Homo sapiens: one gene and its partners. Changing the gene in region 3 together with the main gene of any one other region gives a genetic interaction. Each region holds a gene or a part of one and is shown on either strand. Other genes may lie near its edges. The genes, in order: TCOF1, CTNNBL1 and TUBGCP4.

Region 1 (3,652 bases), on a different chromosome or scaffold from region 3:
TCCACACTGTAGGGAATCTTCTTGAAGTCCTGATTCTTCACCTCATTTGACCTCATGTGTTTGAGGAATGCTGGGGGATGGGGTTGTTTTCTGACACTGACCAGATGCCATCCCTGAGTGAGGCAGGGGCCTTGAGATGCTGCCAGAGTCCTCATTCTGTTTCACATTAGGCTTGCTGTCACTCCTGTTAAGGATCTCACTCTGGGAATTTCCCTTTTTTTTTGTTCTCCTTCTATTTGTTGGAATCCCTGACAGGCCTTTTGGGGGTTCTCTGGATATCGGTTAAGGCTAGATTAAGCTGAAGAAAACCTTAAACAACAAGTATCTTGTTCTGCCGTGGCTGCTTGAGCTCCAGCTCTGACCTCAGCATTCCATCTAGCCTGGAGGAGGAAGAGACATGTTTCTGACCTTTTATGGCACTCAACTTACATCCTATGAGCCAGAATTTAATGACATTGCCACCTAGCTGAAAGGGAGCCTGGAAAACATCTGTTTTAGGTAGTCTTGTGCTTAGCTAATGCTAAGGAAGGCACGCACAATGAGTTTGAGTGTTTATTATGTTCCAGACATCATGTTAAACTCTGAATCTCCTATTTAGTCTTCATCATAACCCGTAGGTGGGCCTTATTATTATCTCCATTTGATAGAGGACTGAACTGAGGCCCAGTGAGATCAAGTGATGAGCTCAGGTTCACACGCCTATTGCATGGAGGAGCCAGAATCCAGACTCGGGCTCCAGCTCCAGAGTCTGTATTCTTGGCTAGCTGCTTTACTCAATCTCACCTTCTCCCTCCTTAATTCCCTTTTCTCCACTCAGGTGAAAACCTCAGTAAAGAAAACCCAGGCCAAAGCCAACCCAGCTGCCGCCAGAGCACCTTCAGCAAAAGGGACAATTTCAGCCCCTGGAAAAGTTGTCACTGCAGCTGCTCAAGCCAAGCAGAGGTCTCCATCCAAGGCAAGTGGGGCCAGAAGCCACAGGAGGTGTGGAGGGTTGGGGTAGAGAGGAGGACCAGTCACTGAGCCCAGCCAGGAGAAGGTGCGTGCATGGGCAGGCCACCCACCCAGAGTTGTGCCATAGTGGGGAGTGGGACCTGAAAGGAATCACTTTTGCCTCCAATACTATTATCCCCCTGCAATTCAGGTGAAGCCACCAGTGAGAAACCCCCAGAACAGTACCGTCTTGGCGAGGGGCCCAGCATCTGTGCCATCTGTGGGGAAGGCCGTGGCTACAGCAGCTCAGGCCCAGACAGGGCCAGAGGAGGACTCAGGGAGCAGTGAGGAGGAGTCAGACAGTGAGGAGGAGGCGGAGACGCTGGCTCAGGTGAGGGGGAGGGAATGGAGATCATCCCCTACATGGGATGTAACACCTTTGCCACATCCAGCTCCTGTCTTCTCACACGTCCACCCTCCAGGCTCTCTCCTCTCATCCTGTTTCTCCCTCCAGGTGAAGCCTTCAGGGAAGACCCACCAGATCAGAGCTGCCTTGGCTCCTGCCAAGGAGTCCCCCAGGAAAGGGGCTGCCCCAACACCTCCTGGGAAGACAGGGCCTTCGGCTGCCCAGGCAGGGAAGCAGGATGACTCAGGGAGCAGCAGCGAGGAATCAGACAGTGATGGGGAGGCACCGGCAGCTGTGACCTCTGCCCAGGTAAGACTTGCCAGGCCTCTGAGCCACCAACACTCACTCCTCAGAACGGGGGTATAGGGCTGGGCGTGGTGGCTCACACCTGTAATCCTAGCACTTTGGGAGGCCGAGGCAGATGTATCACTTGAGGTCAGGGGTTCAAGACCAGCCTGGCCAACATGGTGAAACCCCGTCTCTACTAAAAATATAAAAATTAGCTGGGCATGGTGGCGGGTGCCTGTAATCCCAGCTACTCGGGAGGCTGAGGCAGGAGAATCCCTAGAACCTGGGAGGCGGAGGCTGCAGCAAGCCAAGATCATGCCACTGCACTCCAGCCTGGGTGATGAGAGTGAGACTGTCTCAAAAAAAAAAAAAAAGAAAAAAAAGAAAAGTGAAAAACCAGGGTTTAGGGCCAGGTAAGGAAAAGAAAGGAAGGCCAGGTTAAGGCTTAAGGCTCCAGTTCCACCATGCCCTCCTCCGTCTGCTGTCATCCACATCTCCTTAGGTAAAACCTGCTACTAAAACCCCCCAAACGAAGACTTCCGTAGCTAAAAGTGTCCTGGGTCTATATCTAGGTCGAGGTCTCCACCAGCTCTATAAGCTAGGCCAGTATTTCCCACCAAGGCATATGAGACCAAGAATCTACATGTTAGTTATTGTGCATACGTTAACGTTATACAAAATGACTCTCCCTGTCAGAGTCCCAGGGAAGCTTGGAGTGTGGCACAGGTCCCCCTGAGGTCCTGGAGAGATGGAGGAAGTCTCATCCTGCACCTTGGCCCGGAGCCTCACATAGGCAGGCGCATCTTCTCAGGCAGGGCTTGTCTAGCTTAGTGCAAAGCCTGGACCCTGGAGAGTGGGGAGAAAGAAAATCTGAACAATTCCCTCTGTCTGCTTGCAGAAGATAGCAGGGCTTGCTACATCCTACAGAAGTGTAGGATGACAAACTCCAGCACTGCCAAGGCACAGGTGTGTGATGGAAATGACTGATGCAGGCCTGGCAGGAATGATAGATGTCGGCCGGGTGCGGTGGCTCAAGCCTGTAATCCCAGCACTTTGGGAGGCCAAGGCGGGCGGATCATGAGGTCAGGAGTTCGAGACCAGCCTGGCCAACATGGTGAAACCCTGTCTCTACTAAAAAAATACAAAAATTAGCCAGGCGTGATGGCAGGCGTCTGTAGTCCCAGCTACTCGGGAGGCTGAGGCAGGAGAATCGCTTGAACCCGGGAAGCAGAGGTTGCAGTGAGCCAAGATCATGCCATTGCTTTGCACTCCAGTCTGGGCAACAGAGTGAGACTCTGTCACAAAAATAAAAAAAAGAGATGATAAATGTCAGGAGAGATGGTAGATAGTGGTAGCAAGTAGGGCAGACCGGAGAGCCCTTGCCCCATCCAGAGGGGCAGTTCTTATCAGCTTCAGCCAGTCATGACTGTGGAGATGGACCTTCTGTGTGGCCAGGTCTTCCATTTCTTAAGGGAAGCTGGAAGTCCCTGTGCCAGGCCAAGCTCCATAACCTCTTAGATTTGTTTTCTTCATGAGTAAAACAAGCACTGAGATGAATGCTCCCTAGCCCTAACCTCTGCCTTTGATACACCAAACCAACAATTACTGGGGGTGAAAGACATTGGCCCCACCCTCAAGGAGCTCACAGTCTGTGGGGCAAGACAGGTGACCGGATTATCGCAGACTATGCTAGTGGTGCTGACAGCTGAAAGAGCAGGTCTCTGAGAGGCCAGAAAAGGAGGAGATGATTGAGCTGAACCTGAAGGATGACCAGGCACAAAAGTGGAGAAGGCCCCTCAGTGTGTGCAGAGGGGCTGGGCATGAAGGCACATGGTCACTGAAGGCAGCTGTCCTGCAGGCCGTAGGCCCTCCCAGGTGCTTGTTACTGGTAGATTTATGGAGGACCTAAATGCCAGACTAAGACATAGGCCCCGGCCATATTTTGGGCTGTGTAGTTTTTTTGTTTTTAAGTTTTCAATGAGTTCTTAGTCAGAATGGCCTAATCTGTAGGAGAAAGCCCCATTCAAA
Region 2 (3,652 bases), on a different chromosome or scaffold from region 3:
AGTAAGTAGTGAAGCTAGGCTCTGAGTCTTGACTGAGCCAGGACTCTGACTTGTTTTTACTGTGTCAGGGAACCTGTCTTTAAGCTGTAGACCCTGGGGAGGAGGTAGGGGTTCAATAGAGAACCTTGGGATCTAGGAGTCATTGGTATAATCTAATAAATGTGTCATGCTGAAAATGAATTTATGGGTAGCTCCCACTTAAAACCCCATATGTGGAAATAGAAATTTAATAATAGAATAATAGCTAACATTTTTGAGTACTTATAAAATTATGGGATGATTCAGTGCTTTCCAAAAGGATCTATTTCAGGTTCTCTTAATAGCAGTTTCTTTATTGCTTTTAGGTGTGAGTTATGGTCAATGACTACAAAGCTGTGAAGCTTTGAGTTGGGATAGTATGAAGAGAAGCAGGGTGCATTGCAGCACATTAATTTAAACTGGAAGGAAACTGAAGATAAAACGTGTGAAATTTCAGTGTAGATTTTTTGGAGAAAAAATGATTTAGTTTTCAAATATTCATTTTATTTGCTTTCATAGGTATTATTCCAATGTATGAAGCCAGAAAATTCTGTACAGTCTACTAGCTTTTTTTTGCATTCTCTAGGCAAGGTTACTAAATTCTTGATGCTACTTCAGGGTTCAAAGTACCTGTCTGAATTCCTTCTCAGCATCTAGTAAGTACCAGGCAAAGTAATATATAAGAAATGCTAAGCAGTGACTATAGCTAATTAACAACCGTTCTTAGTTTACGCACTGTGGAAAAACAGGCAGTAGGTTGGATTTGGCTCATGGGCTGCAGTTTGCCAACTTCTGCTGTAGGAAAAGATTAAGGGTCACTGTCACTGACTCAGAGTTTGACCTTAAACAATTCTTTTAAACCTGTCAGTCTTATCTTACATGTATAGCAAAGGATGACAAGGTAAATGTATAATAATATTATCTAATATTGTTGCTTACTCTCTGCCATACAGTGTGCTCAAGAAATATTTGTTGAATGAGTGAGTCTTTAACAACTTTTCTTTTTTTTTTGAGACAGAGTCTCCCTCTCTCACCCAGGCCGGAGTGCAGCGGCACAGTCTCGGCTCACTGCAACCTCTGCTTCCCAGGTTCAAGTGATTCTCATGCCTCAACCTCCCGAGTAGCTGGGACTACAGGCATGTGCCTGTATTTTTAGTAGAGATGGGGTTTTGCCATGTTGGCCAGGCTGGTCTTGAACTCCTGACCTCAAGTGATCTGCCCACCTTGGACTCCTGAAGTGCTGAAGTGCCCAGTCTTTAACACCTCAAACCGAATTTTCTGTGTTACAGATAGTGGGCATTGTGTGAGACACCCAATGTGATATACCCGAAAAGAAGCATGTGATTACAGGCCCTTACTCCTCATTGTAATTAGAGAGATAAAGTGTGTACTGTGGCCGGGCACAGTGGCTCACACCTGTAATCCCAGCACTTTGGGAGGCCAAGGTGGGCAGATCACGAGGTCAGGAGATCGAGACCATCCTGGCTAACACGAAGAAACCCTGTCTCTACTAAAAATACAAAAAAATTAGCCGGGCATGGGGGCATGTGCCTGTAGTCCCAGCTACTCGGTAAGCTGAGGCAGGAGAATCGCTTGAACCTGAGAGGCAGAGATTGCAGTGAGCTGAGATCATACCACTGTACTCCAGCCTGGGCGACAGAGCAAGACTCCATCTCAAAAAACAAAACAAAACAAAAAAAGTGTACTGTACATTGAACCCAGAAAGGTCAATGGCAGAGTGAGGTGGGGTATAAGAGCCACAGGAAAGTAGTGACAATGAATGTGAAACCCCTGTGGACTGAAGTTTTTGCATTTGTCTCTTTGTACCAGGAGGAGCCATTGGATGAAAGCTCAGTGAAGAAAATGATCCTCACATTTGAAAAGAGATCATATAAAAACCAAGAATTGCGGATTAAGTTTCCAGACAATCCAGAGAAGTAAGGTTCTGTTCCACTGATACCATGTCTCCTCTGTGGCGTTTCGTTGGCTAATTTTGTTTTGATTTTGGTTTGTTTTGGCTTTTGTGATTTGGGCCAGGAATCCCAGGATGACCCCCATGTTTGGGAATTCACTAGAAGGACTCCCAGGACTCAAAGTCAGTGATACTCAGGGCTGTGGTTTATTACACAGGGCACACAACAGGATCAGCAAGAGAAAAAGACACATCAGGTGGCATCTGGAGAAATTCAGATACAGGCTTCCTATGTTTTCTCCTTCCCAGTGGGTGGGATTATACAAACATGCTTCTTTCTTCAGCAATGAAATGCATCAACATGTGTGCAGTGATGCTGTCCAGGGAAGCCCATTTCAGACTCTGAGTTCAGGGTTTTTATGGAGGACTGGTCATGTAGGCATTCTCTGCCTGTAATAACAATAACAACCAAAATTGTAGGCTCCTGGAAGGAAAGCAGCTGTTCAGTGCCCCGGGCTGACAAAGCAGCAACCTTATCACTTAGGGAACATTTCAAAAGCCAAATTCCTGGCTGCCAGCCTAGGGCCAGCCTTGTAAGCTAGCCCTTTTCAAGATCAGCCCCGCAGTTAACATATTAACTCTCCTGCATTATTCTTTTCAGTGCCCAAAGAAGACTGATCGTGCCTGCCGTTAGTGATAGCTTTACTGTGGAGATCATTTCAGAGGCTCTGAAGTTAGACAGATATTGGTGTGATACACACATCCCTTTGAATAAGTTACTTCCCCTTTCTTAGCCTTGGGTGTCTCATCTGTATAAGGAAATAATGCCTTCCTCACAGGGTTGTATGAAGATTAAAGGAGAATAATGTAAGTGTTTAGCTTAGTACCTGGCACATAGTAGGTGCCCATGAGATGATAGTTAACGTGAGTTTTACTACACTGGCACCTTGGTGCACTATGAAGTGCTATGTGAGGAATCTGGCATCTTTCAGTCAGTCTTGAATCCTAACCAAGGGGACTTTCACATTTATACGATTTTAATGTTCTAAACCTCTCTTTCTTTCCCTATCTTTGTCCCTCCCAGGACATACAATTTTAATGAATCTTAATATGCCCAAGGCCCCCAGGCAATTAACAATTGAGTAGTACAGGCTTTGCACTCAAGTTTTTAGGTTACTAGGGAGACTGACTATAAAGGCAAGGTAGAAGGAAACAGACACTTTAAAAGAGATATAATAGGAGAAGAAACAGTAAATACCAAGTTGGGGGCTATTGAGGGTGTCACAGAAAAGATAGTAGTTGAGCTGGGCCTTGAAGATTCATTTTTATTAGGCGGAAAAGAACACAGGAAGGCATGCCAGGCAATATGAGGAGCATGAACAAAGGCACAGAGGTGTCAGCGGGCACAGAGTCTTCATGGCAACCTAGAGAGGCCAGCGTGGTCAACTATGTTGTCCCTGTGCTGTGGATGAGAAGGCAGAGTGGGGAGAATGTGGTTACTGGGCCTAGGGCCACAGCCCTCTTTGATAGTAGGAGTAGCTATTAATAGATCAGGGCCCAGCTTATCCAGCATTAGAGTCCTATCAGGTTTTGTACTGATCTCCACCATACAGGAGCACTGTGTGTGTGTGTGTGTGTGTGTGTGTGTGTGTGTGTGTAATTACACAAGTAATGCATGAATAGATTGTCATTCTGAAAATACCAGTGGTACATGAGTAGAGT
Region 3 (3,652 bases):
TTGAGAACATTTGTTGGATATGTTCATTTATTCAATAGTCATTTATTGAGCACCTACTACGTACCTTGGTACTGTTCAAGCTGTGGGAGATACAGCGGTAAACAAACAATATAGAGCAGAAAGTTAAATATTTTATGGTTCATATGTGAAAAAGTAATTATGTTTATAAATAGACTAACTGCTGGATGTTACCACCAAGTAAGAAAGCAACAGGTAAGATAGGCTTTCTCTCTCCCTATACCAAGTAATTTATACCTACACAGATTGGGCAATTCTAGCTAATGAAAATATACTTAAAAGTATTTCTTAGGCCGGGCATGGTGGCTCACACCTGTAATCCCAGCACTTTGGGAGGCCGAGGCGGGCGGATCACCTGAAGTCAGGAGTTTGAGACCAGCCTGACCAACATGATGAAACCTCGATTCTACTAAAAATACAAAAATTAGCCAGGTGTGGTGGCATGTGCCTGTAATCCCAGCTACTCAGGAGGCTGAGACAGGAGAATTGCTTGAACCTGGGAAGCAGACGCTGCAGTGAGCTGAGATTGTGCCATTGCATTCCAGCCCGGGCAACAAGAGCGAAATTCCGTCTCAAAAAAAAAAAAAAAAAAAAAAAAAGTATTATTCTCCAAGAAAAAGGTCCTTAAGAAAAAATTGAGATCAAGTTGTTAGATTTTTAAATACTGAAGATTGCAGGCCCAATTACCCATCTTACACAAACCATAGGGGTTGAAGTTATCTTAATATGGCCCAGCCATCACTGGTAATCAATATTCATATCAGTGTAAGTAAAAAGAAATATTCACTGAACAACGCCCTCCAAACTGAAAAAGAATGCAGTGTTCTGGCATCAGGTTATAGTCACTGCATCTGGTTTTCATCACTACATATTCTACACACACTGGGAAGCTCTGACAACTTATTCCCTGCTATTATCAACTAAAGATCACCCTTTCTACTGCTGTCTCTGGAGCAGGAGCTGGCAAACTATGGCCTGCTGTCTGTTTTTGTACAGTTTTACTGAAACACAGCCATGCCCATTTGTTTACTCATTGTCTATGGTTGCTTTCATGCCCTCACAGCAAAGGCGAGTAGTTGTGATGGATCAAATGGCCCACAAAGCCTGAAATATTTACTCTTTGACCCTTTACAGAAAAAAACCTTGTTGACCCCTGCTTTAGAGAATGAGAAGCCATGCAGGGATCAGTGATGCCAGAGGAAGGGAAGGAACTGCTTCCAGCTATTGTGACAATAATAATAATAATAATATTGGGTCTTTGACTAGAACGTGTAACATTTCCAGGTGTTCTCACTTGTGCTTCCCATGTTTATCTTACGGAAGGTCATTCCATCAAGCTTATGGTCACTGTCCCTTCATGGCAGTTGGTCCTTTCGTTCTCCCTTTAGCTCTAAGAGTTGGGGAGTACCCACAGGTGAGCTGTGATCTCAGCTCAGAGAGAGAGCATGAGGTCTTTTTTAACTGTCAGGAAACAGAGCTGTGCCCAATTCCACTCAACTTTTGGCACAACTGTTAATCTGGGCCTTCACCTACCTTAAACTGAGTTTCTGCAAGCATAGCATTTTAGACACCCTGGAATAACCTTTTGGGAATGATGCCACAGAATAAAGTTCACTCTTAACTTTTCAATTTCCTTGGCCAGCTGTCCTCCGTAAGTGAATAAGCCTGTTGAAAGACTCAGAGAAAGTACTATGTCTTGTCATTTGTTCTGAGATTAAGCTCAAAAAAACAGATGAAGAAATCCCAGTTACTACAACCAAAGAGATTCAACATTTATTTTATCATAAAAGTTCAGCAAATAAAACTATATACAAGATCCATGCAAGGAATCCAGTTACACACAAGACACATTTAAAACCTGGTTAAAACACAATCTCCACGATAGCAGGGAATAAAACCAGTAAGACCAAGTATCTTTAGTGAGAAACATAATCGTGTTTATATTTTGGATGCTGCTTGAATCCAATTCTCTCCCCAACAATGAGGCACTGGATCACCCACTCTTGTGACACCACAGGCAGCTGCAATGCTTCAGCACACTTCAGCACCGAGGCTGGGCATGAGGGGTCCGTCACCACCACATCAAATACCCCTAAAGCAATATCTGCAAGGAGCAAGGGAAAGTGAAGAAGGAAAGGACACTCAACTTAGCCCTCCATTAGAAAGAGAGATTTGATTCTAACCAATACATCCCACTCTGCACAAACCAAAGCCCTATTATGTCAAACACACTGCTACTGATCATGACCAAAGGCAGAGTTATAATCACTATGTGCTGACCTTGTAGAAATATTTAACAAATATACGTCCAGTGCTTCACTTATGTTGACTCACCTCTTGAAGGTGGTACTTTTCTTCTCTAAGAAACATGGATACGGTCAACCTATTAGGCCTGAGCCTTGGACCACAAGGCCTAACACCTACAGGTCTAAGGAGATCCCTGGAACAAAGACACTACACACACTCTTTCAGGTACCTTTGTTATGGGCACTTGAATGGTGCTGCTTCACAGAGGCTGCACCACCAGTCATGAGGATCTCAGACCAGAGCTCCAGGAAGTTCTGCTGTTGGTCTGATACCAAGAGTACCTTCAGATTCTGGAAAGGATTTTCACGGGGTTGCCTATGAAGGAGACAGGAAAGGACCTTAGCATGACAAGTAATATCCAACAAACTGCCTTTCTGCAAAGGGACTCATGTACATCTGAATGCTTTCAAAAATAAATGCCCCATCAGACATAGTGTCTCAAGCCTGTAATCCCAGCACTTTGGGAGGCTGTCGTGGTTGGATCTCTTGGGCCTGGGAGTTCGAGACCAGCCTGGGCAATGTGGTGAGACCCCATCTCTACAAAAGACAACAAAAAAATTAGCTGGGTGTGGTGGCGAGTGCCTGTAGTCCCAGCAGCTTGGGAGGCTGAGGTAGGGGGATCACTTCAGCCTGGGAGGTTGAGGCTGCAGTAAGTCGTCACTGCGCCACTGTACTCCAGCCTAGGTGACAGAGCAAGACTTCATCTTAAAAAACTAAGCCCTATATTAGGGTCCCCCTTCTCTTCCTTCTTTCTATGAATGATCTGTATTCCTTGCATTCCTGGCTTTCTAATTTCCATGTTTGTTCTGGGGCTGAGAATAATCCAAATCATGCTCCTGAGCCTATATATTTTTAATGCTTGCTTAAAACTTAGTTCTCTGACTTTACAGGTTGAGAATATTGAACCTATATACAAATCTTCACACATTTGCAAAAGGTTCCTAGCCAATGTAACCTAGGGAAATAAACTAGATAAACTCCTGAAGTCATTTCAAACCCACTCAAATTTATCCCACAGACATTCCAATTTCTAGAAAGCTTTACTCTCTCACCTAGATTCTCTTCCCTCCAAAGCTTGCTGTCCTCCTGCCTATACAATTCTGGATGGGCTTCAAATACTTACCAGTCCAGAATTCTTTGCTCCTCAAGGCTGTACCCAGCTGGCAACAGATAATTACGGTAGTTCTGGAGCTGGTTGGCATGGCAACTATCATGGACCCAGACATGAGACACACAAGGAATCCCACTGGCAAGGCACAGGAAGTACTTCCGGGTTCGACAATGCTGATCCGCAATTAGAAGACACTGGTAAGCTGTGTTACACTGC

Evidence for each region.
Region 1: changes in TUBGCP4 (region 3) and TCOF1 together harm fitness less than expected from each alone (positive genetic interaction), as found in Homo sapiens cells (one large-scale study listed by BioGRID).
Region 2: changes in TUBGCP4 (region 3) and CTNNBL1 together harm fitness less than expected from each alone (positive genetic interaction), as found in Homo sapiens cells (one large-scale study listed by BioGRID).

The regions. Positions count from the first base shown.
Region 1 is NC_000005.10:150,378,088-150,381,739, forward strand, and holds part of TCOF1 (treacle protein), read left to right. Parts: intron 1-817; coding exon 818-955; intron 956-1,141; coding exon 1,142-1,321; intron 1,322-1,444; coding exon 1,445-1,645; intron 1,646-3,652.
Region 2 is NC_000020.11:37,735,530-37,739,181, forward strand, and holds part of CTNNBL1 (beta-catenin-like protein 1), read left to right. Parts: intron 1-1,848; coding exon 1,849-1,955; intron 1,956-3,652. UniProt on the Homo sapiens protein: Component of the PRP19-CDC5L complex that forms an integral part of the spliceosome and is required for activating pre-mRNA splicing.
Region 3 is NC_000015.10:43,405,449-43,409,100, forward strand, and holds part of TUBGCP4 (gamma-tubulin complex component 4), read left to right. Parts: 3' UTR 1-1,934; coding exon of another isoform or gene 1,935-2,122; 3' UTR 2,123-2,486; coding exon of another isoform or gene 2,487-2,640; 3' UTR 2,641-3,448; coding exon of another isoform or gene 3,449-3,648; 3' UTR 3,649-3,652. Other genes in the region: TP53BP1 (TP53-binding protein 1), read right to left, coding at 1,935-2,122, 2,495-2,640, 3,449-3,648. UniProt on the Homo sapiens protein: Component of the gamma-tubulin ring complex (gTuRC) which mediates microtubule nucleation.